Homo sapiens: one gene and its partners. The protein of the gene in region 4 interacts with the protein of the main gene of each other region in a pairwise test. Each region holds a gene or a part of one and is shown on either strand. Other genes may lie near its edges. The genes, in order: SLC35B2, CMTM7, CLEC7A and TEX29.

Region 1 (7,599 bases), on a different chromosome or scaffold from region 4:
CTCCTACATGTCCTTTCTCCAGGGCCTAAGGTGACTTACAAGAAAAGCAGAGAGCTACTTTCTTCACCTTGCTTCCAGAATTGGGATCCCAAGAGCTTGGTGGGGGAGGGGTGTGACAGGGGAAGGGCTCGGTAGTATTTCCTTGGAAGAACAGGTTATGGCCTTTATAAGCTGCTTTCAAAGAAGATGCTGGCAGCTGGTGATTCTTGAGCCCAAGCATGTTCCCAGAGGTGGGAGCATGCTGCAGTGGCCCCATGACCCTCTATTTGTGCCTCCAGACAGCACTCCATCTGGCTGTACATCTGGACCAACCGGGCGCAGTTCGGGCACTGGTGCTGAAGGGGGCCAGCCGGGCACTACAGGACCGGCATGGTGACACAGCCCTTCATGTGGCCTGCCAGCGCCAGCACTTGGCCTGTGCCCGCTGCCTGCTGGAAGGGCGGCCAGAGCCAGGCAGAGGAACATCTCACTCTCTGGACCTCCAGCTGCAAAACTGGCAAGGTGTGGACAGTCTTTAAGACTGCCCTTAGGGCCTGTGGGATGAGGAGGGCATAGGAGATAGGGACCTCACTCTTGGGGAAGGGAGGGTCCCAGCTTGTCCATTGGTGCCCCTCCCACTGTAAGCACATAGATATTCAGTACATCTTTGCCAAATGAATGAATGGATGATTTGATTTCGAATTTAACCAGTACCTACTGCCTGCTGAGAAGAAAACTAAATCTTGCCCTTAAGATACTTAGTTTAATAGAGATTAGATGACCTGATTCATTCATTCAACAGAAATGTACTGAGGGTTTTCTATGTGCCAGACGTTATCCTAGGAGCTACACTTGCATCTGTGTGCAAAATAGAGAAAGATTGAGATGAGCAATAAATGTAAGAAGTGAACTATGTAATATGTTAAAAGGAAGTAAGTGCTGTAGTAAAAAGCAGAGCAGAGTGAGAGGAAGGAATGTGGGGAGTAGGAGAGTTGATATGATTGTTAAATAGGGTGGTCCGGGAAGGCCTCATGGAGCCAGTGACATCTGAATAGCGCCCTGAGGAAGGTGAAGAATGTAAATTTGAATCGAAATCTCTATTACTAAGCAAGGGTCGGGAGTGTCCAGACTAGAAAGGAGAGCAAAAAGGCCAGGGGAGCACAGAAGGAAGCGGCCCCTGAGAAAGGGCTGGGGGCATGAGGATCTTAGGTGGCTTTTCAGAAAAGGTGGCTTTCAGACTGGGCTTGAAGGCAGGTTGTGTGTGTGTGTGTGTGTGTGTGTGTGTGTCTGTATGTGTGTGTGTGTGTGTGTGTGTGTGTGTTGTAGTTTGTGTATAGGAGGAGGGTGTTCTTTGGGGGTGTCACTCAGCAGCCTGACCCCTGAAGCATGAAAGTTTCAATAACATGACTCTGAAAAGGTGGAAACTTTGAGTTCCTTTCCCCTTAGACTTTTGAGGGGGTTTTGGGGTTTGCATTTTAACAGTCTTGTGATTAGAGACATTGAGTGGGCTGTGAGTCCCTTGGGGCTGAGTGGTAGGGAGGTCCCAGAAGAGAGGGAGTTGGTGGATGCAGATCAGCAGCCCTCACCCTCACTCTCACCCCATCCCAGGTCTGGCTTGTCTCCACATTGCCACCCTTCAGAAGAACCAACCACTCATGGAATTGCTGCTTCGGAATGGAGCTGACATTGATGTGCAGGTGAGACAGCCAGCAAAGCACTGCCCGGCCCAGGGCCTGCCCCCACCTGACACATCCCCAAGTCCCCTGCCCAGCAGTCAGAAGTGGTGGCATTCACTTCCTTATCCAGAGCCCAGGCCCAGCACACTGCCTCTGAGGGCCTTGGCTGACATCCTTATTCCTCCCCAGGAGGGCACCAGTGGTAAGACAGCGCTGCACCTGGCTGTGGAAACCCAAGAGCGGGGCCTGGTACAGTTCCTGCTCCAGGCTGGTGCCCAGGTAGATGCCCGCATGCTGAACGGGTGCACACCCCTGCACCTGGCAGCTGGCCGGGGTCTCATGGGCATCTCATCCACTCTGTGCAAGGCGGGTGCTGACTCCCTGCTGCGGAATGTGGAGGATGAGACGCCCCAGGACCTGACTGAGGAAGTAAGTGGCATATGCTTTGCTCTCCAGGGCCTTGCACACCCATAGCAGAGAGAGGTTCTGTCATTAGCTGAAAGGGCCAGGGAGCCAGGAGTCCTGGGGTATAACCAGGACTCTGCCACTGACCAACTGTGGGAACTTGAGCCTGTTTCCTTAGTTGGTCCAAGGAGCCAAATTTGGACTCTTACAGGGACCCTGCAGTTAAAGTGAATCAGTGAAGTTGGCCAGATATGAGACCATGGTGTGGTGAGGCCTATAAGAACCCAGAGAGCCATCCCTGAGGGTCTCTGTACTCAGCTTCAGCAAAGGCTTACAAAGCAGGAGTGTAGGCCCAGTTTTTCCTGGTCTTGGACTTTCTTGAGAGGTGAAACTCAGATTTTCTGTACAGTCTTTCCTATTTTTAAATGTTCAGTGTAAAAAAGAAACCTAAATGTTCTGCGAGTACCCAGCAGCCCCCCCACCCCATCCCCCAACAACAACAAACAACTCCAGGTCCATGGGCTGGATCACCTCTAAGGGTCCCTCCTAACTCGGATATTCTGGCATTATCTTAGAAAAGGAAGGCTTGTCTAAGTCCTCAGGGCTCTGCCAAGCCCAGAGGGGCCACTATTTTGAGGATTCGTGTGAAGATTTGTTCCCTGATGGTCTTCAACTGTCATTTGGTGGGGAGGGAGTGGCCCAACAGGTTTCCCTGGGTCCCCTTTCCCAAGTCACCTTTTCCCATGTCCTCTGATCTTGCTTCTCTCCATTCTCCTTCTCAGTCCCTTGTCCTTTTGCCCTTTGATGACCTGAAGATCTCAGGGAAACTGCTGCTGTGTACCGACTGAAGCCAGGCAGGGTCTGGGATCCTCAGGGCTCCACCTCTCCATCTGGAAGCCGGAGCCATAACTGCTGCAGTTTGGGCCCAGGCTATGTGCTCTTCTGGTGCCCTAGGGACTGCTGTGGCCAGAGCCTGGGGCCAGCCAGTACAGTCCTGAGCCGAGGAGGAGGGACTGCAAGTGGAAGAGAGCCAGTCTGGAAGGAAGAGCTTTCCAGGTGGACAGGGCTTCTTGGAAGACCCCCAAAGCCCCAGGTATCCTGGGTGAAGCCTGTTTGCCTCTCTTGAAAATGGCAGGTGCTCTTGTTTTACCCATGTTGGGTCAGCCTGAAACTGCCAACCAGTAGGAAGCATGGACTCTCCTGAGTGAGAAGAGACTGAAATAGGAGCAAGCAGAACCCTGAGAGGTGTCCCATCTTATTGCTGTTGAGGACCCTGAAACACCGTTGTTTAAAGACTTCACACAGAAGGCTCTGAACTGAGCCACTGGGGAAGGGAAGTTTCAGTAACATGACACTAAAATGGCAGAGACGTTAAAAAAAGTTTTTCCCTTCTAGAGCTGTTTTGCGCGCATGCATGTCTGTGTGCATTGGGGCTTTTTAGACAGGCCTGCCCTGTGACTTTGTGGTAGAGGCAGAGAGAAGGAAATTGTCCCCTGAGCACGGTAGGGCCTTGCTGGGTGGGGTCAGAGGCCAGTAGTTCCAGGCCTTTCTCTGTGTCCAGCACAGACCCTTGTCCTTGCTGTGGAAATGATGAGGGATGGAGGGACAAGAGGAAGAATGAGAGGACACACGCCCTGGAGCCCTCACCACTGCCCTGGGGGTTGCCATCTGGAGGAGCCTGGGGATAAGGGTAACCCAGGGAGGCTGGGCACGAGGGAGCTGACTCCACGTTTTTCCCCCCGTTCCTCACCTTCGAGGGCCCTGCTAGGTCACCCCTATGCTGGCATGAAGAGCATGGGGCAATAAACCAGCACAGTCTCTGACCACTTGGAGCGTCTCATCCAGTGAGAGAGACAGCCGTTAAAAGCATAAACATCCAAATAAAGATGCCTTTCCAAGTTGCAGTGGGTGCTATGAAGGGAAAAGAATAGTGGGAAGGAAAAGGATGGAGTCGGTAGAGGGTCATACTTTGGGTGGTCCGGGAACCCTCGCCTGAGGAGTATCATCTCAACTGGGATGTAAGGATGAGTAAAGGGATGGGGGCAGAGCATTAGGGGGAAAGCCTGTGAATTAGAGGAACTGAGAGCAAGCCAGTGGGGCTTCACAGCGGGCGAGTGAGTGGGCGAGGAACGCGGGCGAGGCCATGTAGAGCCTCGAAGATCATGGGAAGTGGGACAGAATTACTACCCAGCCAACAAAGCAAGGAGACACCTTCATCCTGTCAGAAAACGGGGAAACTAACACAGAGGAGCGGCTTGGGATGCAGAGCCTCAATGTCCTGTCCACAAGATGGCAATGGTCACCATGACCTCTGGGACGCTTATGAAGGGCGATGACGAAGCACAGGGGACACGCCGGGCGGGCGCCTCTTCAGGGCTGGGGCTCCCCGCGCCCAGGGGCAGCCCAGGTCCCCGGAACCCAAGCCGCGTCTGCCTCCGGGCCGCGCGGGGGCGCTGTGGTCCGGCGGCGGCCCGGGGCGCTGCGTGGTCGCGGCAGGGGCGGAGGGGGCCGCGGGGAGGGAGGCGGGAAGAGCGCGGCACTTCCGCTGGCCGCTGGCTCGCTGGCCGCTCCTGGAGGCGGCGGCGGGAGCGCAGGGGGCGCGCGGCCCGGGGACTCGCATTCCCCGGTTCCCCCTCCACCCCACGCGGCCTGGACCATGGACGCCAGGTGGGGGCTAGGGCAGCAGCGAGCTCACGTGACCGAGCCCCCGGGCCACGTGACTGCCGCGCCTCAGCACGGGGGCCGGGTGGGGTCCCGGCTGCTCGGCCGTCGGCCAGCATATCGCTGCCCGGAGCCAGCGGGGATGGGAGCTGCGGCTTGGTTTTGTGCTCCTTGGGGAGCTTCGGGCGGAGGGGCTGGGGACCCTGACGTCCCGGATCGTGGAGGGGAGTGTGGGGGAAGGGGCGCTTCCTCTGACCTGAGCAGCCGGCTAGCGTTGGAGGGAACAGAGGAGACCTGTGTGGCCAGAGGGGCGGATCCGCCCCCGGGGAGGGAGGAAGCTCTGCCTGGCCAGCGCCGGCGCACCCCCTCCCCGAGAGAGAGAGAGAGAGAGAGGCTCTTTGTCCGGGCCGGAGCTGCAGCGGAGGGGGCGGGGAGGAGACTCCGGGCACTACTCCAGTGTGGTCCCCTCTGGAGGGCGGAGGGGATGAGGAGCTGCGCCCTAATCCTTATGTCCGCTTTCCTTACAGATGGTGGGCAGTGGTGGTGCTGGCTGCGTTCCCCTCCCTAGGGGCAGGTGGGGAGACTCCCGAAGCCCCTCCGGAGTCATGGACCCAGCTATGGTTCTTCCGATTTGTGGTGAATGCTGCTGGCTATGCCAGCTTTATGGTACCTGGCTACCTCCTGGTGCAGTACTTCAGGCGGAAGAACTACCTGGAGACCGGTGTGTGAAGAAAGGGCGGGGAAGTGAGCTAGGTCGGGAAAGAGGGTATTTGGCCAGCAGTCCAAACGGGATATGACTTGGAGAGGGCGGGAGGTCGGTAGGCCGGACAGCAGGGCAGGCTGGCTGCTCTGGGGAAGATGAAGTGCTATGGAGAAGATTTGGGGCTTGACTTTGTGTGCTTTCTTCAGGTAGGGGCCTCTGCTTTCCCCTGGTGAAAGCTTGTGTGTTTGGCAATGAGCCCAAGGCCTCTGATGAGGTTCCCCTGGCGCCCCGAACAGAGGCGGCAGAGACCACCCCGATGTGGCAGGCCCTGAAGCTGCTCTTCTGTGCCACAGGGCTCCAGGTGGGTAGGTGGGCTCAGCCTCTCTTCCTGGGTTGGATGCCGGTGGGCAGGGATTCTGTGAAGGTTTCCATTTTACCAGTCCCAGAGCTTTGCTGGCTGGTGTGTTTCGTGTCCTCCTCCCAGGGGCACACTGCACCTCCATCTTTGAGGTGTTTGGGGGAAATGCCCTTTTGTTTCTTCCTTTTCTCCTCTCCAGCACTGGTACTGAAAGTTCATGCTGTTATTTCAAGATGTCTAGTGCAGAAGAGAGGACTCCTCTTGCCCTATTCTCTGTGATTTCTACTGTGCCGTTATTATACTTCCTTCCTGCACTGGTGTCTCACATACTGTAAACCCACTGATAAAATTGTGGGGGAGCCATTCAGCCTTCCCCCAGTACTGCATGTGAGAGAGTGCTAACATGCTGACCCCATGGCATTTTGCAGTGGGTACTAGTTCCACCTTGAATATCATGTTGAACTACAGATACCCAATTCTGAGAGTTCTTGCCTCCCTGAATAGGTTTTTCACACACAGTTGATTCCCTACAAGGTGAATCCAGACTTAGGAGGGGAGAAGAAACTTCTACAGAGGAACCAAAAAGTGTATATTTTCCTTTGAATCACTTAGGCATAATCCTGAAGAGAGAGAGGTCAATTTTTGTCTACCTTTTCATTATCTTGCTTATTGTCTCCTTTGTCTCTACCTTCCCCAACAGGTGTCTTATCTGACTTGGGGTGTGCTGCAGGAAAGAGTGATGACCCGCAGCTATGGGGCCACAGCCACATCACCGGGTGAGCGCTTTACGGACTCGCAGTTCCTGGTGCTAATGAACCGAGTGCTGGCACTGATTGTGGCTGGCCTCTCCTGTGTTCTCTGCAAGCAGCCCCGGCATGGGGCACCCATGTACCGGTACTCCTTTGCCAGCCTGTCCAATGTGCTTAGCAGCTGGTGCCAATACGAAGCTCTTAAGTTCGTCAGCTTCCCCACCCAGGTGCTGGCCAAGGCCTCTAAGGTGATCCCTGTCATGCTGATGGGAAAGCTTGTGTCTCGGCGCAGCTACGAACACTGGGAGTACCTGACAGCCACCCTCATCTCCATTGGGGTCAGCATGTTTCTGCTATCCAGCGGACCAGAGCCCCGCAGCTCCCCAGCCACCACACTCTCAGGCCTCATCTTACTGGCAGGTTATATTGCTTTTGACAGCTTCACCTCAAACTGGCAGGATGCCCTGTTTGCCTATAAGATGTCATCGGTGCAGATGATGTTTGGGGTCAATTTCTTCTCCTGCCTCTTCACAGTGGGCTCACTGCTAGAACAGGGGGCCCTACTGGAGGGAACCCGCTTCATGGGGCGACACAGTGAGTTTGCTGCCCATGCCCTGCTACTCTCCATCTGCTCCGCATGTGGCCAGCTCTTCATCTTTTACACCATTGGGCAGTTTGGGGCTGCCGTCTTCACCATCATCATGACCCTCCGCCAGGCCTTTGCCATCCTTCTTTCCTGCCTTCTCTATGGCCACACTGTCACTGTGGTGGGAGGGCTGGGGGTGGCTGTGGTCTTTGCTGCCCTCCTGCTCAGAGTCTACGCGCGGGGCCGTCTAAAGCAACGGGGAAAGAAGGCTGTGCCTGTTGAGTCTCCTGTGCAGAAGGTTTGAGGGTGGAAAGGGCCTGAGGGGTGAAGTGAAATAGGACCCTCCCACCATCCCCTTCTGCTGTAACCTCTGAGGGAGCTGGCTGAAAGGGCAAAATGCAGGTGTTTTCTCAGTATCACAGACCAGCTCTGCAGCAGGGGATTGGGGAGCCCAGGAGGCAGCCTTCCCTTTTGCCTTAAGT
Region 2 (7,024 bases), on a different chromosome or scaffold from region 4:
TTCAAAGAAAATATACAAATGGCCAAAAGCACATGAAAAGATGATTAACATCATTAGTCACTGGAGAAATGAAAATCAAAACCACAGGAAATAACACTTTACACTCACTAGAATGGCTGGAATCAGAAAGTCAGATAATAAGTGTTGGCAAAGATGTTGTGAAACTGGAACCTTCATACACTCCTGGTGGGAATGTAAAACAGTGAGCCACTTTGGCATACAGTCTGGCGGTTCCTCAAACAATTAAACACAAAGTGACCATATGACTCAGTAATTCCCCTCCTAGATACATACCAGAGAAAAATGAAAATATGTCCACACAAAAAACTTGTATATGAATGCTCATAGCAGCATTATTCATAATAGCCAAAAGGTAAAAACAACCCAAAGGTCCACTGAAGATGAATGAAAAACAAAATGCAGTCTGGTCTATCCACACAATGGAATAAAATTTGGTTATAAAAAGGCTGGCATGGTGGCTCATGTCTGTAATCCCAGCACTTTGGGAGGCCAAAGTGGGAGGATTGCTTAAGGCCAGGAGTTTGAAACCAGCCTGGGCAACACAATGAAACCTCATCTCTGTAAAAAAAAAAACACAAAAATTATCCAGGTGTGGTGGCATGCACCTGTAGTCTCAGCTACTCGGGAGGCTGAGGTGGGAAGATCACCTGAGCCTGGGAGGTTGAGGCTGCAGTGAGTCGCGATCACGTCACTGCACTCTAGCCTGGGTGACAGAGTGAGACCCTGTCTCTAAAAAGAAAAAAAGGAATGAAATACTGATACCTGCTACAACATGGATGAACCATGAAAACATTCAGCTAAGTGAAAGATGCCAGTTACAAAAGACCACATATACAATTCCATTTACATGAGACGTTCAGAGTAGAAAAATTTTAGAGACAGAAGATTAGTGATTGCTTAGGACTGGAGGGATGAGTGGTAGGGAGGTGACAGCTAAAAGGTATGGAATTTCTTTCTGAAATGATGAAAATGTTCTCAAGTTGACTGTAGTAATGGTTGGACAACTCTGGAAATATACTAAACTCCATTGAATTGTACCCTTGAAATGGGTGAACAATACGGCATATGAACTGCATCTCAATGAAGCTTTAAAAAATAATACAGTGGGAAGAAAAAGTCTGGCAACTTCTGACTGTCTCCTCAGCCCCCACTAGTCTCTTTTAGCCAGAAAATCCTATCATTCAATCCTCACAACAGCATCAATACCCATCATCTTCACCTACAATTTCCTTCCGTGTTCCTTTTCCCAACTCATACACACACAGCCATTCTCTGTTGCTTGAGAAAGTAAGCATGGGGCAATAGCCACAGCCTTCTTCTTTTTTTTTTTTTTTTTTTTTTTTTTTTTGAGAGGAGTCTCGCTCTGTCACCCAGGCTGGAGTGCAGTGGCTCGATCTCGGCTCACTGCAAGCTCCGCCTCCCGGGTTCACGCCATTCTCCTGCCTCAGCCTCTCTGAGTAGCTGGGACTACAGGCACCCGCCACCACGCCCGGCTGATTTTTTGTATTTTTTAGTAGAGACGGGGTTTCACCGTGGTCTCGAACTCCTGACCTCGTGATCCGCCCGCCTCAGCCTCCCAAAGTGCTGGGATTACCAGCGTGAGCCACCGCGCCCGGCCAGCCACAGCCTTCTTGTAGCTGGAAAGTGAGTTTTAAAAACCAGCAGGACATCAAGCAGAGATGTCCACCAAACAATAGGAAATTCAGGGCAGAGGCAGCAAAGAATGGTTAAAGAGGTGAGATGGGCAGACGGGAAAAACTCTGTCAGGTCTCAGTACTCTAGCTAACATCCTGACTTGTGCATGCGGAGGACAGGGCCAGACCACTCTCTTACCGACAGGGGCCAGCTGATACAGGTGAGCACGCGGTAGAAGCGGAAGAGGTGGACCAGGTAAAAGGCGAGGATCATTATCAAGTCGCAAATGGTGACCACTTCAAAGTAGCTGTAGGCGCTGTAGTTGGTCCACAGGGAGCTCCGCACACAGATGAAGGCAATCAGCAGGGTGACCTGCCACATAAATAGAGACATCAGAGAAATGCTTGCCCAAGACGGGCACCCAGGGAACAAACAACGGAAAACAACCAAGCATCCCCCAGCAGGCCCACATTGAAGAACTGCTATTAATACAATTCAGGTTATTTCCATACACACTGGCTGGAAGGTTGGAAGACTGCAACTTCATGTGGTACACACTTTGAAACTACTGTCTGTGAACACTGATGACAGCAGAGACTGACTTCGTCCTCTCTGAAGTTTGTTAGATTGTGCCAGCGGGAAGCCCCCTCAGAAGAAGCAGGAAAACAAGAAAATAACAAAGCAGAACCATCCCTTTCATCTGCTGGATATCCATAGAGCAAAGAGGACAGCGTGATGGTGACCTGGGGTTTACATATTAGGCCCAATTGTACGAAGTTGCCAATATTTGATGGTTTTTGACCTACAAAGATGGTAATTCATACCTTACAGCTATCAACTGACAGATAACAAGTTACCATTTACTGATGTCTGACATACGTGATCTCGCTAAGGCCATGCAGAACCCTGCCAGGTAGACAAAATCATCCCCATGTTCATAAGGGGAAACGGAGGCATGCAGGTTCAATCATCAGTCCAAGGCTATCTGGCTTGTAAGCAGAAGTGGGATTTGAATCCAGGTCTGTCTGACTCTAAGGACCATGTTCCTCCATGTCAGATGCAGTTCTACCTCCCAAAAGTGTAAGCTCTGATCATAACAAGCCGAGAAAGGTGGACGGGTTCTCAACCATGCAGGAATCCTGTTTAAGAGGTGAGGCTGCTCACCATCAGGGCATGTGGTGAGAGCTCACTAAGAAATATCTCAGCACGAGTGAACATGCTTAACGGCCTGCTACTGAATTAATAACCAGATGAAAACTATTAGCAATGCATGAGTACAAGAAAGTAGAATGAGTAACAGTCTGAGCTTCCGTGAAGGCCAAAGAGAAAACCTGTCTACTCCATGTAGGGAACAAACCAGTAACACACGGGATTCAATGTGTGTAAAATCTTAGAATCTACTTATTTATTTAGTTATTTAGTTTTTGTTTTTCTGAGATAGAGTCTGGCTCTGTTCCCCAGGCAGGAGTGCAGTGAACCAATCTCAGCTCACTGCAACCTCTGCTTCCTGGGCTCAAGTCATCCTCCCACCTTAGCTTCTCAAGTAGCTAGGATTACAGGCGTGTGCCATCATGCCTGGCTAATTTTCATATTTGTAGTAGAGACGGGGTTTTGCCATGTGGCCCAGGCTGGTTTCAAACTCCTGAGCTCAAGCAATCCCCCTGCCTTGGCCTCCCAAAGTGCTGGGATTATGGACGTAAGCCATTGTTTCCAGCCAGGAATCTATTTAAAATGCACAACCAATTTAGAAAAAAGATTATTTTATACACTGCCTCTCTCCTATGGAGGAGTGATTCTTTTTTTTTTGAGATGGAGTCTCACTCTGTTGCCCAGGCTGGAGTGCAGTAGCATGATCTTGGCTCACTGCAACTCTGCCTACGAGATTCAAGCGATTCTCTTGCCTCAGCCTCCAGAGTAGCTGGGACTACAGGTATGCACCACCATGCCCAGCTAATTTTTGCATTTTTAGTAGAGAGGGGGTTCCACCATGTTGGCCAGACTGGTCTTAAACTCCTGAACTCAAGTAATCTGCCTGCCCCAGCTCCCCAAAGTGCTGTGATTACAGGTGTGAGCCACCACGCCTGGCCAGAGCAGCGAGTCTTAAAGTGTGTGTGTGTGTGTGTGTGTGTGTGTGTGTGTGTATGCGTGTGGTGTTAGTGTATGGGTGTGTTAGCGTATGGGTATATGATTTTGTGTCCTATGGGACATTTGGCAATGTGTGTATATATTTTTGGTTTACACAATTTGCGGGGATGGGGGTTGCTACTGGCATTTAGTGGGTAGAGGCCCAGGGTGCTGCTAAGCACCCTGCAATAAATAGGAGAGCTCCCATAGTAAAGAGTTACCCATCTCCAGCCCCAAATGTGGCCCCTCAACTACAGTACTACTGTTGAAAAATTCTGCTATAGAAAATGTCAGTCTACAATGAGAATTAAATCACAAAATGGGGCCTGGTGCATGCCTGGCATCCCAGGCTCACGCCTGCAATCCCAGCACTTTGGGAGGCCAAGGCGGGTGGATCACCTGAAGCCAGGAGTTTGAGACCAGCCTGGGCAACAAGCAAGACCCTGTCTCTACAAAAAATACAAAAACTAGCTGGGCGTGGTGGCATGCACCTGTGGTCTCAGCAACTTGGGAGGCTGAGGTGGGAGGATCAATTGAGCCTAGGAGGTTGAGGTTGCAGTGAGCTATTATCACGTCACTGCACTCCAGCCTGCAAGACAGAGTGAAAGTCTGTCTCTAAAAAAATAAAAATCAAATCAAATCACAAAATGGATCTTACTCCAGTTAAAACAGTTGATGCTGAAATGCTCTTATTTTCTAAAGCCCCTTGTTGCTAGCCCACTATCAAGATCCTCAGCAATAGGTACAACAGCTAAAAGAGAACTCTCAGCTGGAAGCTTGAAGCAGGTATGGAGAGTGCTCTGCTTACCAGATCGAAACAGAAGAGTGTGGCTGTGACACAAAGAGTCCCTCAACATTTGTGTATTTCCCTTTGCTAATGAGCAACGCAAGTGTTTTCATTTTTTCGGTTCCTCTGAAGCTAGCCAGCCATGGTGATATAATGATTCACACCTCTGCCTTACTCAGGAGTGTGCATGATCGCCAGGGCTTTGCTGCTACGTTAGTCTTACTTCCAGGCCACATCTACATGGGGAAGTCTAGGGGTCTTCCCAGCCCCACAATGACCTCCTCAAGAACTCAAGTATCATTATTCAAGGCATGACTGAAAATGCAGATAATGTGGGATTATGCAGCGTGATTCCTAGGTAGAGAGGCAATTTTGCATCTAGTTTAATGCAGAGATTAAAATAATTTTCCAACTCGTCGTTGAAGACAAAGTTAGCTCTTTTTCATGGTGACACAGGGATGTGGAAGTTTCCCAGCCAACAAAAGGGGCCTGTGCAGGTCAGGTCTTCCTGCTCTGAGCCTCCAGGGCTGAGTACTGTGTAGTAGGAAGTACATTCCTGCTCTATCAGAAACATCTCGAACCTTTCTGGGAAACTTGCTCATGAAATAACACTTTCTGAATTCGGTTCACTGGGCCTATGGCCATCTACCATATGACTTTCTTTAGGAAAGCCCAATTTTAGAAAATCTAATTTAGCCAGAGTATGGTGTGTGCTTATGCGTGCTCCTAAAAGCTTCCTTTTTGCCCAGGGATTCATTCATTCCAACTTTAAATAGCCAGCATCTTAGCCAGCATATTAAGTTAAAAAAAAAAAAAAGATTTGACTGACATCAAACTTTTCAGAAATTCTTCTAAAGCCAGTAGGTAACTTCTGCAAATGCTGGGGCCCCCTGAATTATTTAGAAGCTTAATTCCTGGGTGACAAAATAATCTGTACAACAACCCCCTCCCATGACACAAGTTTACCATATAAGAAACCTACACAAGTACCCCTGAACTTAATATACAAGTTAAAAAAGAAAGCAAAGGTGAAGTGGAAGAAAGAACAAGACAATAGTGGGGAAAAGGCGCTGGGGTGTTTATCCCTGCCCTCCTCCCGCCAGCTCCAACCCTCTCAGGTGTCTTCGTGTTCCCAGTTAGAAAAGCAAATGCACAAACACGCCTGAATTCAGAGAGGACTGGAGGTAGGGGTTCTGACTTCAGGACGGAGTGAAGCAGCTGGGAGGCTCCTGGAAGACAGATGTTTCTGTGTAGAGTAACTTCAAAGTGATGCTGTCCAAAGGGTTCACTTGCCTCTTAAGGTGCCTTCTAGCTCCTCTCGTAACGGTTTGTTCTTTTATATTGAACTGTCATAAAAATAAAATATCTAACATAAATGTCCAGGGGTTTATTTTATTTATTTTATTTTTTTGAGATGGAGTCTCACTCTGTCGCTAGGCAGGAGTGCAGTGGCAACATCTCAGCTCACTGCAACCTCCACCTCCCTGGTTCAAGGGATTCTCCTACCTCAGCCTCACAAGTAGCTGGGATTACATGTATGCGCCACCATGCCCAGCTAATTTTTGTATTTTTAGTAGAGACAGGGTTTCACCATGTTGGCCAGGAGAGTCTCGATCTCCTGACCTTGCGATCTGCATGCCTTGGCCTCCCAAAGTGTCGAGAGTACAGGCGTGAGCCACCGCGCCCGGCCTATTTTTTTCTTTTGAGACAGAGTCTCACTCTGTCACCCAGGCTGGAGTGCAGTGGCGCTATCCCCACTCACTGCAACCTCTGCCTTCTGGGTTCAAGCGATTCTCCTGCCTCAGCTTCCTGAGTAGCTGGGACTACAGGTGTGCACCACCACGGCCGGCTAATTTTTATATTTTTAGTAGAGACAGGGTTTCACCATATTGGTCAGGCTGGTCTCGAACTCCTGACCTCAAGTGATCCACCCGTCTCAGCCTCCCAAAGTGCTGGGATTACAGGTGTGAGCCACGGTGCCCAGCCATGTCCAGGGGTTTAAAAGTAACACTGCAAGAGCCCTCAACTCAAAGCAAGGGTCCCACAGACCAGCCATGATACCACAGAATCACTGGAATTAGAATTCCAGATAAGAAACATCACTCCCTGGAACCTGTGTCCTTTCTGACTCCATTCTGTCAGAATTCTTACTAGAAAGAAGACATGATTTTTTGGAAGGAGCAGAGGGTTTAAATTTCACAAGAGATGAAGGAAGCTGACATGATCTGAGAAAAGTGATGGTCCCCTGAGGACTCTGGAACCAAACTAGTCTGGTTGCAGCTTGAGTGTACACCCGCAACCAGCCAGGTGCCAGAAAGTTTGCCCAGGTTCTCAGCCTGGCTGAGCATCCTTCCAGAAAGAAATGAGATTTTGAGGTCTACGATGAAAAATCTCTACAGAAAACTCAAGAGGCAGTTTTCAAGAGACGTCGGCTTCTGATTGGGCTGGGGAGGTGTC
Region 3 (7,024 bases), on a different chromosome or scaffold from region 4:
AAAGAAACATATAGGATGGTGTCAATGGGTCTGTAATGAATGTAACTGGGATTCCAGGAGAAGGGAAAAAAGATGGGGAAAAGCAAAATATGAAGCAAGTATGGCTGAGAATTTTTCAGTGCTGAGTAAACACATTAGTTTTAAAACATATATTACCTTCAAACAGATGACCTCTCAAAAACAACAGTAAAAAATAGAAAACAGTGGAATAATATATTTGAGTGGCTGAGAGGAAAAACAACAAACCTCTAATTCTATACTTACTGGAAATATCAGTCTTAAGAAAAAATACCTGTAATGTACAGTTGGAAAGGAAGAAAGAAATAAACAACTAAAATCATAAATATGTGGGCAAATTGAAATGAATACTAACTGCATAAATCTGTGCGCCACCTTGTCTGTCTAATTTTTATATCTTTTTTTTTTTTTTGTAGAGATGGGGTTTCACCATTTTGGCCAGGCTGGTATCGAACTCCAGAGATCAAGTGATCCGCCTGCCTCGGCCTCCCAAAGTGCTGGGATTATAGGCGTGAGTCCCCGCGCCCGGCCCAAGGGCTAGTTTTTTCTTTTTTCTTTTTCTTTTTTTTTTTTTTTAATACTGAGTCTGGCTCAGTCACCCAGGCTGGAGTGCAGTGGTGCGATCTCGGCTCACTGCAACCTCCGTCTCCCGGGTTGAAGCAATTCTGGTGCCTCAACCTCTGAGTAGCTGGGATTACAGGCGTCCACCACCACACCCAGCTGGTGACGCATAGCTGTAGTCCCAGCTACTCAGGAGGCTGAGGTGGGAGAATCGCTTGAACCCAGGAGGCAGAGGTTGCAGTAGGCCAAGATTGCCCCACTGCACTCCAGCCTGGGCGATAAAATAAAAATAAATAAATAAAAATAAATACATTAATATAATAGCATATAAATTGAGGAGAGAGTCAACAGAGTAAAGGAATGCTCTATGATTTTTATATTGGTCAGGAAGAACATAAAAATGTCAGTTAATGTTAGTCTTTGATGAGTGAAGTATACATGTGTAATTCCTAGAACAACTACTAAAAGATTAGTAAAAGAGATGTAAAAGACATGAAAGAGCACATTCCAAATGAACAGAAAAAAAAAACAGAATAAGAAAAAGTGTTAAATCGTCCAAAAAGGAGGAAAGAAAGGGGAAAAAAAGTAACAATTCTAAATCTTTATGTGCCTGATAACACGGCTTCAACACATCGAATAAAATGTTTACAGAACTGTAAGTAGAATCGCAGCGGAAGATTTCAACACAATTCTTTTCATATGGAAAGAGGAAGAAGCACGTAAAAATCACAGAACTACAAGCACGTGGAGCATGTTCTCTGATCACAGTGGAACTAAGCCTGAAACCTAAAACAAAGAGATAACCAGAAACACATATGTTTGTAAATTAAGAAATGCATTTCTAAATAACTCCTGGGTCAAAGAGCAGCTCACAGTGGAAATCAGAAAGTATTTTGAACTGAAAGACAATGAAAATACATTAAAATTATAGCCTTAAGTCTACATACTTGAGATAAAGGAAGGCTTAAATTCATGAGGCAAGCACCCAATACGAGAAGTTTGAGATGGAATAGCAAATTTAAAACAAATAAATTAGGTCAGGAGATCGAGACCATCCTGGCTAACACGGTGAAACCCCGTCTCTACTAAATATACAAAAAATTAGCCGGGCATGGTGGTGAGCGCCTGTAGTCCCAGCTACTCAGGAGGCTGAGGCAGGAGAATGGCGTGAACCCGGGAGGCGGAGCTGGCAGTGAGCCGAGATCGCCATTGCACTCCAGCCTGGGTGACAGAGTGAGACTCTGTCTCAAAAAATAAAACAAAATAAAATAAAAATAAATTAGATGGAAGGAAGTAATACAGATTAGAATAAAAGTTAATGAAAGAAATAATAAAAAGACAGAGTCAACAAAGTCAAAAGTTACTTTCTTTGAAAAACCAAATTGAACGGTACTCCTACTGAGACAGATGAAAAAACACACACAGGTGTGCACACACACACTAATAATAAGAACTTAAAAGAGACATATTTCATATTCTGCAGATATTAAAAAGCAAATGAATGACAACAGCAGTGACAGAAACCACATAATAAGGAATAATGTATCATCAGGCAAATGTGAAATACGTTTAAAATATCTTTCTAAAATGCAAAATGTGAAAATGTGGTTGCTTTTTAACTTAATAATAAGTCTCACACATTAACTATGTACAAGACACTGTGCTAAATTATTTTACTTTTATACCCATCTCACAATTCTAAGAGGAAAGCACTCTTTCTTTTTTTCTTTTTTTTTTTTTTTTTTTTTGAGTTGGAGTCTCACTGGAGTCTCACTCTGTCATCCAGGCTGGAGTGCAATGGTGCAATCTCAGCTCACTGCAACCTCTGTCTCCCAGGTCCAAGCAATTCTCCTGCCTCAGCCTCCTGAGTAGCTGGGATTTCAGGCAATGCCACCACACCCGGCTAAATTTTTAGTGGAGGTGGGGTTTCACCATGTTGGTCAGGCTGGTCTCAAACTCCTGACCTCAAGTGATCCGCCCACCTGGGCCTCCCAAAGTGCTGGGATTACGGGTGTGAGCCACCACACCTGGCCAAGAGCACCTTTCTATTCTTGTTTATGGAAAATGGGACTCAGAGAGGAAAAGTGACTTATCCCCAGTGTCACACAATCAGTGAGTGGGGTAATCATTAACCCAAACTGAGGCCTGGCTTCAAAACCCATGCTCTTAACCGGGGAGTTACACTGACTGACAGTGACTGCTCCTTGCCTGGACAACTTCAAACATGTCGATGCCTCCCTAGTAAGAAAACCAGAAGAATATCTGTGTTGATGCTACTAGATGGCCTCACTCTTTTTCACTCTAAGGTCCTCCTCATCTTTCTCCTCTTGTCCTAGTTCACTCTTTCTCTTCTTCTATATCTTTCTCCCTCTCTTTCTCATATATGGTGAGCAAATCAGGTTCTTAGCTGCTCGACAGAGGTTTTCATAGATGAGATGGAAACCTCTCTGAGAAAAAGGATGAAGCATTGTCTCTCCAAACACTTACAAGTTAGAAGAGAATGTTGATCCATCCTCCCAGAGCCATGGTACCTCAGTCTGGGGCCGAGAAAGGCCTATCCAAAATGAATTATCAGGTTGGGAAGACACTTGTTTTACTATAAATCCCTGTAATGAAACATATACAAATATATAATAAAGAGAGAGAGAGAGAGAGAAAGAAACTATTATCATGGACGCTGAGAAAAAGACAACTGATTGAATCACTTTGGTAAAGAATGCAAGGCCGGGCGCGGTGGCTCACGCCTGTAATCCCAGCACTTTGGGAGGCCGAGGCGGGTAGATCATGAGGTCAGGAGATCGAGACCATCCTGGCTAACAAGGTGAAACCCCGTCTCTACTAAAAATACAAAAAATTAGCCGGGCGCGGTGGCGGGCGCCTGTGGTCCCAGCTACTCGGGAGGCTGAGGCAGGAGAATGGCATGAACCCGGGAAGCGGAGCTTGCAGTGAGCCGAGATTGCGCCACTGCAGTCCGCAGTCCGGCCTGGGCGACAGAGCGAGACTCCGTCTCAAAAAAAAAAAAAAGAATGCATGCCTAACCTGACATCAACCTAGAGAGAAGTGCCAATTTTTGAATGTCATTGAATGTCTCAAAAGGCCTATCTTATTTATTTAAAGTAATTATCATTTAATTTTCCAAAAGAATAGATTTGTAATGTGAGGACTGTACTGCCTCCATTCAACCTATCTGACAAAATCCCAGATGACAGTCCCCCTAGGCAGTTTTCATGGATGATTAGCCATTGTCTTCTCCTCCAATTGAAGAAATAAATTGACGCTACTTTCGTTAAGAAGTACTTCTCAGAGTTAGGTAACAACTTAAAAATAATTTAGTCCAACTGTATATTTTATGAATATGTAATCTGAGGTTCAGTGAAGATATCTGAATTGTTTACAAATCTATAACAATTTATTTTCAATTATAGGCTGGCCTAAAAGTCAGATAGACTTGTAATCCAGTACTCTTTCTTTGCCATATATCTAGTTCCATTAACTTTAATATAAATTATTACTACTGGGTAAGACATTACAGAAACAAAAACAAAATAAGAATAGTGAAAGTAGGTGTAGAAGTTATAGACTGGTTTAGATTTATAACATAGAATTTTTCCTATTAACCCCTTATCTTACCTCATTGAAGCTCTACCCTTCATTCATGATGTGTTATAAGTGCCACTTTTTCTGAAAACTTCTTAGGAACACGGGGATCTCTTTAAACTCCTATAGAATTTATTGCTAATGCCAGATATTTAACTTTTAATAGCTGCTGAGTTGCTTTTTTTTTACTTAAAAGATTATATGTGTCCTGTGATAGCAGGGTTATGTTTTAACCCTCTTTGCCTTTCCCAGTATCTTGCAAAGAGTAAATAATTTCTAAACATATATTATCATTGTTGCCATTTTTCTTGATAATTATGATGACAAGGAGAAGAATTTTCTACTTTACTTCCACCATATTTAAAAATTGAAATACAAACTCACAAAAATGGGTAGTGTCCTGATTATTGTAGTCATGCATACATGGAGTATGTTTGAAAGGATTTGTTTTAAGGCGAAACACAGTTTTTTAAATTAGTTAAAAATAAAAGCATATACTATGCACTTTATGTGCTTAAGGCATGCTATGATTATAATTATAGAGATATTAAAAATGAATTTTGGCCAAGTATGGTGGCTTACACCTGTAATCCCAACACTGGGAGATCGAGGTAGGCAGATCGCTTGTGCCCAGGATTTTGAGACCAGCCCAGATGATATGGAGAAACCTCGTCTCTATGAAAAATACAAAAAAACATTAGACGAGTGTGGTGGTGCACCCTGTAGTCCTACCTACTCAGGAAGCTGAGGTGGGAGGATCACTTGAGCCTGGGATGTCGCGGCTTCACTGCACTCTAGCTTGGGCAACAGAGTGAGACTCTGCCTCAAAAAAAAAAAAAAAAAAAGACTTCATTTTAGGAAAAATTGTCATTACCTGGAATCTCCCTCTATCTTCCTTCAGGATACACACCACAGATAATCATAACAGAAGTCTACACTTACCAATTCATTTGAGCTGTCTATCTTTAGGAGATTAGAGCCCAGTTGCCAGCATTGTCTTTTACTTCCATCCCAGGAATTTAGTGACATGCTGAATAGATAACAGCTCTTCTCATATATAATCCAATTAGGAGGACAAGGGCTGGAAAGAACCCCTGGAAATAAAAGATTAGTACCATGAGGTTCATAGCATACCAATTCACTCTTTTAGTGTGAACACCATTCATCTTAAGGACACTTATGAAATAACCAATTAGTTGCCATTTTTATATTTCATTGTCAATTCGAACTACAGGGATATGATTTTACAGATGAGAATACATTAAAATCTTCCTATTCATTTAAAATTTAAAAACAAACTAGCTATAAATAGTATTTTAGGCAGCCAACCATCCTTTTTTTCTTCACTTGTCTTCTATTCCTTCTAATTCAGCTCAAAACTACCTTTCTCCTTAATAACTCCTTAAAATAAGTCCACTCACAATCAGTCATTGAGGTACACAGCAATTTCATATTGCTACTTATTTTATGATGTAAGATCTACTTCATAATGTGACTTTCCAAGTGAGAAAAGTATAGGCCAATTATTCATATTATACACTATCTCTGTTATATATTATTAGCTACTTAATAAAAATAGTGAGAAGGTATGGGTCCAGAGATGAAAAATTGAACTGAAAACATTAAGTCATAGTCAATTATGATGCAATTAGAAGTAAAAGTCAAGTGTGTATAGAATTGTAATTAAGTAAATGAAATTGTATGATTAAACAAATTTGATGAGTTTTCAGGGACATGTGTATTAGGTCTACCTCTTTTGTATATTTTTAATATAGCTTCCTTATTCTTGGCAACATTTTCCCTTCTTTCCTTTCTCCCTGTCATTCTTCCTTTCTAATGTCATATTTCCTATTCTAACTGTATCGCATTTAAAATGTCAATTCTGTAAGGGGAGAGAACACTTTTCTTTTATTTGTATCAAATTATATGATCTCCTGTAGATCTAAGCACATAGCCAGTGATAAATCAGTTACTGATTTTAAAAATTAATAAAGTCCAATTTAGAACTGTCCAGCCAACTGCATAGGGTACTTATAATTTCACCTTATTGTATATATGACAGGGATACATTACACTAAGGTAATACTAATATGTGTATTTGCCTTAAATTTACAATCATTGAATCTAAGTGTTTTTCTTTACACCCCTGCCCCAGGCTTCAGCACCAAGAATTAACCCTCTTGAGTCAAGATTCCGTCCTTTAACTATGCCCTTGCCTGTGGTTTTGACAGCTTTGGTAGGAGTCACACTGTCTTCTAAAGATGATTGTGTGGGTTGACTGTGGTTCTCTTTATTTCTTGATAGAAAGTAGCCATTCTCCAATGTGTTGCTTCCTGAATTGGATCTCCAAATAGCTTCACATACCAACAATAATAATAGTGACAGAAAAAATGTCATTCTGCTGTGTTTGAAAATTAAAATCCCAAAACCCAAATGTTATTGGAATAAAAGAATACATTATTGATTAATGATAAATAGATGATATATTGCTGTGGAGAGATAAAGACGATTGATAGAATAGATGAAAAGAAATACATAACTTTTATAAAGGAGGTATAGTAAAAAAAAAAAAAGAAAAGAAAAAAGAAGGTGGAGAAGAAGAAATAGAATGAGGGAGGCAGCAAGAGGCAAATGTCATAGAGTCAATTGGACCCATGACAGATTTGAAATAGCAACATCTTTCACCTTTCTTCTGTTATTTAAAAATGAGAGATCCTTGAGAAACTGCCCAGTACCTATAACATAGAACGCACTCAATAAACATTTGACTAATTAAGGAATGTCATGAAGACTCTCTGAAGGTGACTGACAACAGATTGCATGTGATATAAAATGTAAAAAAAATATT
Region 4 (7,024 bases):
GTGAGCATCTGTCGGCCACTCTGGGACTGAGCGCACTGCCTTGCATGAGGGGCTCTCAGGCAGCTACGGCCTATGCTTTGGGGCCTCTCAGATCCAGATCCAGACGCTGCTCCTCCCTCGCAGCACGGCTGAGTCCTAGCAAAGCCAAATGCCAGAGTCTTGAACCGCCTGTGTCTGTGTGGCAGCCCACTCTTGGTGAAAGTGCAGCCTGCCTTCTGAAAAGAAGACCTCGAGGACACCACCTTGAGCCCATGCTGTGAGCCCCCATAGTGTTAATATTAGTGACAAGCAGTGCCATTAAAAACTGAAAGTTCAGGTTCCCACTCTCCTACCCCACAGGCTTTCTCTCTCCTAAGATAAAAATATAGCAATGAATAAGCAACATCGGACGAGAAGCAATTTTCAAAATACCTTTATTTTTTTCTCTTTGGGTGGTCATTCCATCACACTGTTAACAGTGCACCTGCTGTACCATTTCATTTGGATAATTCTGACAATCTCCACTTCTTCATGCGTCTCAGTCAGTCCTCAGTTTCTTCGGCTTCTGTTATTGTCCCTGTTACTAGATTTTTAGAAAAGAAGAATTGTTTTTTCAAATGGAATATTCAGCAGTCCCGAAAAGATTTCATCAGGATCTTTGAACCCATCTACATGGTGTCTGATTGGCAATGATTGATTCAAAAGCCAGTTTTGGGGATGGCCGTATCCTCCTATGTTTCTCATTGCATTCTAGGGGACAGTAAAACACTCTTCCTCCCACATCATCTCTCTACACAGGAGGCTCCCTTAACCAGGCAAACATCTGTCCTGCAGGAAAGCCTCATTTGCACAGACGCAGCCTCAGTTAGGGGCCAGGCATTCCAGATCTGAAATCAAGTGTGGGTTGCCCTCTTACCCTGCCTCCTGATTTTCCTGATGGTCCCTGTAAAGCCAAGTCTATTTGGTAACAATGGGTAAGGCCAGGCCGTTTGTATCCTGTACAAACATCTCTGAAGATAAGGATTACCATTTGAGATGTTTCTTTCTCTAACCTGGCAAGGTGCTGATCTAGGAAAAGCAACCGGCAACCTCCAAGGGCCCCCAAAGCAGGTAAACCAACATATGAGAAACTTTCCTTCCTGGAAACCGAAGCAGGCATAGAGTGATCGTCCACCTCTCCAACCACGACCACCACGTGGCCAGGGCACCACAAAGAGTACCCACAGCAGCCCTGCAGCCTCCCCGCACATCCACGACCACCAGGCGGCCAGGGCACCACAGAGAATACCCACAGCAGCCTGGCAGCCTCCCTGCACAACCAAGACCACCACGTGGCCAGGGTGCCACAGAGAGTACCCATGGCAGCCCTGCAGCCTCCCCACAGGAAGTCACCTGATCAAATGTGCAGTTTCTGCAGGACTCTTGCCCCCTCCCCAGGAGCTTCCCACACTAACAATGAGGGCCCCGCCAGAGGGTGAAATGACAGGGAGGCAAAAGGGGATGGGAAGGGGGAGGACAAGACTCACAGAAGGAAACTCACACTGACAGCCACATCCACCCTGCAAACCTGAACCTCCAATGTTGGGTACATTACAATTTTGAACAAACTGCAACACTGATCACTGAGGTTGAAGGGCCTGTGTAGATGTTGAGCCCCTTCCCAGGGAAGGTCTCCCGAGGGAACAGAGCCACGCCCTTGACCTTAGGCTGAGGATCATTCCAGAAGCTTCTCACCATCATCCTTATCCTCGTCACTCTTCATCGAGGGCCCAGCACTTGGAGGCCCAGGACTCGCAGGCTTCAGCCCTAACTTGCTGCTGGATGAGGCCAACTCCGCCTTTTCGCTGGACTTCTGTGGCAGCGCGACATCCACAGGGATGGCCTTTTCTTTCCTGCTCTCCTGAATGACTCTGATGGGAAGAGGGTTTTATCACAGTCAGGGAAGTTACAGATGGAAAACTCTCCAGTTCCTCCCTCCCACCCACCAGGACATCCCTCTGAAAACACAGGTTCCTGATCATGCATACTTATTTTTTAAGGTAAATGCTTTGATGTAATAGTTCTCATTTTCGTTTCTTTCTCTCTCTCTTTTTTTTTTTTTTTTTTTTGAGACAGTTTTGATCTGTCATCCAGGCTGGAGTGCAATGGCACAAACACGGCTCACTGCAGCCTCCAACTCCCGGGCTCAAGTAATCCTCCCACCTCAGCCTCCCAAAGTGCTGGGAGATTACAAGTATGAGCCACCACATCCAGCCTCATTTTAGTTTCTTGTGCAGGCTCCAAACAGATGGCTGTATGAGGCAGCTAGACTCCCAAAGACAGCTCCGGGCAGGGGGAAGGTGTGTGTTGCACTGCAGGCTACTGCCGGCTCATCTTCATGATTAACACACATAAGACAGCATACAGCACCACTCATGGTAGGAAAATGGCTTTACTCATTCCTGGACAAAGAGACTCAAATAATCTCAGGGGCTTGTATGCACACAGAGTGGGCTCATGGTGAAGGTGGTGGCCGGGGAGTGAGATGCTGGATTCCAGCCCTGCCCTGGGAATAGCCACCTGCTTCCTTGGCCCCCCGGGTCTGCATTTCCTCACCATTAAAATGAGAGGGAGTGGACTCATCTCTGAGACACCTCCAAACCCTGACACCCTGCAATGAGGACGCAGGCCACAGGCCAAGAGATGCAGGCAGCCTTGGGTTCAGGGACTCTGAGACAACTGGGAGCCTGAGTTAGAGCCTCACTGCCCCATCCATCAGCCTCGGGACCCCCTCGATGCTGCGTCAATCATCCCAGTCCGGGGACAGTAAGTTCACTTACATCGTCAGTGGCTTCAAGGGCTGAAAAGGCTGAGCAGAGCTCTTAAGAGTCTTAGGTGCTCACTAAACACGGGTTATGATGTTCATCAACAAGCACAGGTGCTCACTAAACACGGGTTATGATTTTCATCAACAAGCACAGGTGCTCACTAAACACGGGTTATGATTTTCATCAACAAGCACAGGTGCTCACTAAACACGGGTTATGATTTTCATCAACAAGCACAGGTGCTCACTAAACACGGGTTATGATTTTCATCAACAAGCACAGGTGCTCACTAAACACGGGTTATGATTTTCATCAACAAGCACAGGTGCTCACTAAACACGGGTTATGATTTTCATCAACAAGCACAGGTGCTCACTAAACACGGGTTATGATTTTCATCAACAAGCACAGGTGCTCACTAAACACGGGTTATGATTTTCATCAACAAGCACAGGTGCTCACTAAACACGGGTTATGATTTTCATCAACAAGCACAGGTGCTCACTAAACATGGGTTATGATGTTCATCAACAAGCACAGGTGCTCACTAAACACGGGTTATGATGTTCATCAACAAGCACAGGTGCTCACTAAACACGGGTTATGATGTTCATCAACAAGCACAGGTGCTCACTAAACACGGGTTATGATGTTCATCAACAAGCACAGGTGCTCACTAAACACGGGTTATGATTTTCATCAACAAGCACAGGTGCTCACTAAACACGGGTTATGATTTTCATCAACAAGCACAGGTGCTCACTAAACAGGGGTTATGATTTTCATCAACAAGCACAGGTGCTCACTAAACACGGGTTATGATTTTCATCAACAAGCACAGGTGCTCACTAAACACGGGTTATTATTTTCATCAACAAGCACAGGTGCTCACTAAACACGGGTTATGATTTTCATCAACAAGCACAGGTGCTCACTAAACACGGGTTATGATTTTCATCAACAAGCACAGATGCTCACTAAACACGGGTTATGATTTTCATCAACAAGCACAGGTGCTCACTAAACACGGGTTATGATTTTCATCAACAAGCACAGGTGCTCACTAAACACGGGTTATGATTTTCATCAACAAGCACAGGTGCTCACTAAACACGGGTTATGATTTTCATCAACAAGCACAGGTGCTCACTAAACACGGGTTATGATGTTCATCAACAAGCACAGGTGCTCACTAAACACGGGTTATGATGTTCATCAACAAGCACAGGTGCTCACTAAACACGGGTTATGATTTTCATCAACAAGCACAGGTGCTCACTAAACACGGGTTATGATGTTCATCAACAAGCACAGGTGCTCACTAAACACGGGTTATGATGTTCATCAACAAGCACAGGTGCTCACTAAACACGGGTTATGATTTTCATCAACAAGCACAGGTGCTCACTAAACACGGGTTATGATGTTCATCAACAAGCACAGGTGCTCACTAAACACGGGTTATGATTTTCATCAACAAGCACAGGTGCTCACTAAACACGGGTTATGATTTTCATCAACAAGCACAGGTGCTCACTAAACACGGGTTATGATTTTCATCAACAAGCACAGGTGCTCACTAAACACGGGTTATGATTTTCATCAACAAGCACAGGTGCTCACTAAACATGGGTTATGATTTTCATCAACAAGCACAGGTGCTCACTAAACATGGGTTATGATTTTCATCAACAAGCACAGGTGCTCACTAAACATGGGTTATGATTTTCATCAACAAGCACTCTGGAGAAAATCAGTGGGGCCCTCCGTGAGCCTGGCCAGTTCCCTTTCCCAGGCTCACGGAGAGCTGTTCTCAGTCACCCCAGCAGCACCAAGCCCGAAGGAGCCCAGGCAGGCAGGAAGCTGCGGCCAGGAGAGGTGAGTCCCCTCCTCCCCACCCTCCCAGTAAAGAACAAAGGGACCGACCTGTAGATGATGGTGATGACGAAGGCCCCAGCGATGATCACAATCAAGGCAGAGAACACGTGGATGTAAACTGAAAAATGGTGGGATTTGAAGTCATTTCGATCCAGGTAAATAGAAAAGGAAGAAGATGAAGAAAAGGCAACCCTCCCAGAGTCGGGTGCGGGCCCTCCCGGCGCGGCTGCCCATGGTCAGCACTCCTCACCCACCCTCCCCAGCGTCTCCTGGAGACTCAGCTCTGTGGACATCTCCAAAGGCCCCCGCAGGCAGGCGAGGGCTCCCTGTGAAAGGCAGCTCCAGGTGGTAGTCAGTGCCACCCAGAGGACACCTTGTGACCACCCTGACCCCCGGGAGTGCATGGAGAGACGGCACTGGGTCCTGACCCCCGGGAGTGCATGGAAAGATGGCGCTGGCTCATGACCCCCGGGGGTGCATTGAGAGACGGCGCTGGCTCCTGACCCACGGGGTTGTGCTGAGAGATGGCGCTGGCTCCTGACCCTCGGGAGTGTGTGGAGGATAGATGGTGCTGGCTCCTGACCCCTGGGGGTGCGTGGAGAGATGGCGCTGGCCCCTCTGTTCCTGCTGTGCTCCCCAGCTCCCTGGAAATGGCTCCTCAATGCCCAGGTCAATTCCTCCCCTAAACTGAATACAAGGAAAACACTTATTGGATCATAGACAAATCCTTGACTGGGCTTCCTTGTATTAAAAGGGGTTCCTGCAATCCCCAAGTTTCCCGTGCCTTCTCCAACCCAGCCTCAGCAAAAGTCAAGCCTCCCCAGGTGGCCACGAGGGGCAGCCCCGCCACCCTGGGTTTCCCTGCGTGAGTGCACTCCCAGCCTCTCCAAGACGGGGGTAACTGGGAGGAGGAACTGCTCAGCCCCCTCCTGAGCCTCTTTCTGAGAGACTGCCCACTGCTCAGCAGGCAGGGCCCTGTCTGTGCAAGAGGCCTGAGGGGCGCAGCACCGCCCAGCACCGAGGGCTGATATCTGGATCTCCGTCGGCTCATTGGTTCAGGACTTGGACCCCTCAAGTCCTAACATTTGTACACGAGCATCATTCCTCTCAGAGTCCTTGGTCAAATAATATCCTCATCTACTGTTTGTTCTTCTATGTTCCTTCCGTCAGGTTGATGTAAGGAATTTTTTAATGAATGCAAGTAAAGTTCTTAAGTGGTTGGCTAATCACATATACAGAGTAATTCTTATTGTTGTTATTATTATCAATATTAGTCTCTTCTCTAATTGCTTTCTTACTCTCTCAAAGAAACTGGCTGACTTGCAAATATCAAGTGCAGGTGACACGATTTGCTTCAATTCCCATACCTCCCCTCCTGCTAAACTGCTTCCAAGTCGTGAAGCAGTAACAACACCATCAGATGTAATTTCCCTGGATGGTGTGTCAGTTTGCCAGGGATGCTGTAAGAAAGTACCATGCACTGGGGGGCTTAAAACAATAGAAATTGATCATCTCATGGTTCTGGAGGCCAGAAGTCCAAGAACAAACTGTCAGCAGGGCCGTGTTCTTTTCAAAGGCTCCCGGGAAGGGTCCTCCCTGGCTTCCTCCTAGCATCACAGCAGTCTCTGCCCCTATTGTCACGTGGCTGTCTTTCCTCTGTCTCTGTGTCTCTTCTCTTTTTACAAGGACACCAGCCATTTTGGATGGAGGGCTCACTCTACTCCACTATGATCTCATCTTACCTAATTACACCTGCAAAGACCCTTTTTTCTAAATTAGGTCACATTCACAGGTACCAGGGATCTAAACTTCAACATATGCATTGGGTGTACACAATTCAACCCACCCCAGAAGCAAGGCCGCAGGTGCAGAGAAAGTGGCCTCCTGGGCACATGAGCCAGCTTCCGAAGGGATCCGCACTCCCTGGACTCATCACAGGGCCACCAGCAATGGATGAGGTGCCCAGGATTCTTTCCATGGGGACTGAAGTCAGAAAACTGAGAGGGGATTGAAGCCAGCTTGTGAGGGTAACCCACATCCTCGATTTTCCTCATACCGAGGTGACCTCAGTAAGGAATGGTGAAGTACCCAATGGGCGCTCGATAAGAGTTCCTCACAGAGAGGCTGGAGGAAGGGAGCGAGGCTTGGGGTTGCAAGCTGTCAGATAACAGGAATGTGCATGTACCGAGGAGCACACTGGGAAACTGCTTGTCAAACATTCTTCCAATCAGCTGCCTTATTTCTTTAAGTGAGGACTGTCCCGTGGAAACTTGCTTACCTGAGGAGGGGAAACAGTGGGGCAGACTCACCTCCAAATATCCGGGGCTACCATAACCAGCTTCCAGGATGGCCTCCCGATT

The links.
Region 1: the proteins of TEX29 (region 4) and SLC35B2 interact in binary tests that used the Homo sapiens proteins (3 or more experiments, as listed by UniProt).
Region 2: the proteins of TEX29 (region 4) and CMTM7 interact in binary tests that used the Homo sapiens proteins (3 or more experiments, as listed by UniProt).
Region 3: the proteins of TEX29 (region 4) and CLEC7A interact in binary tests that used the Homo sapiens proteins (3 or more experiments, as listed by UniProt).

The regions. Positions count from the first base shown.
Region 1 is NC_000006.12:44,254,528-44,262,126, reverse strand, and holds the start of SLC35B2 (adenosine 3'-phospho 5'-phosphosulfate transporter 1), read left to right. Parts: upstream 1-4,598; 5' UTR 4,599-4,716; coding exon 4,717-4,727; intron 4,728-4,838; exon of another isoform or gene 4,839-4,945; intron 4,946-5,248; coding exon 5,249-5,442; intron 5,443-5,630; coding exon 5,631-5,785; exon of another isoform or gene 5,786-5,789; intron 5,790-6,482; coding exon 6,483-7,421; 3' UTR 7,422-7,599. Other genes in the region: NFKBIE (NF-kappa-B inhibitor epsilon), read left to right, coding at 279-501, 1,588-1,676, 1,845-2,084, 2,843-2,908. UniProt on the Homo sapiens protein: Probably functions as a 3'-phosphoadenylyl sulfate:adenosine 3',5'-bisphosphate antiporter at the Golgi membranes.
Region 2 is NC_000003.12:32,436,844-32,443,867, reverse strand, and holds part of CMTM7 (CKLF-like MARVEL transmembrane domain-containing protein 7), read right to left. Parts: intron 2,029-7,024; coding exon 1,855-2,028; intron 1-1,854.
Region 3 is NC_000012.12:10,120,179-10,127,202, forward strand, and holds part of CLEC7A (C-type lectin domain family 7 member A), read right to left. Parts: intron 6,531-7,024; coding exon 6,393-6,530; intron 5,271-6,392; coding exon 5,119-5,270; intron 4,996-5,118; coding exon of another isoform or gene 4,909-4,995; intron 3,186-4,908; coding exon 3,067-3,185; intron 1-3,066.
Region 4 is NC_000013.11:111,337,621-111,344,644, reverse strand, and holds the end of TEX29 (testis-expressed protein 29), read right to left. Parts: intron 5,352-7,024; coding exon of another isoform or gene 5,207-5,351; intron 4,783-5,206; coding exon 4,713-4,782; intron 1,890-4,712; coding exon 1,714-1,889; intron 563-1,713; coding exon 522-562; 3' UTR 397-521; downstream 1-396.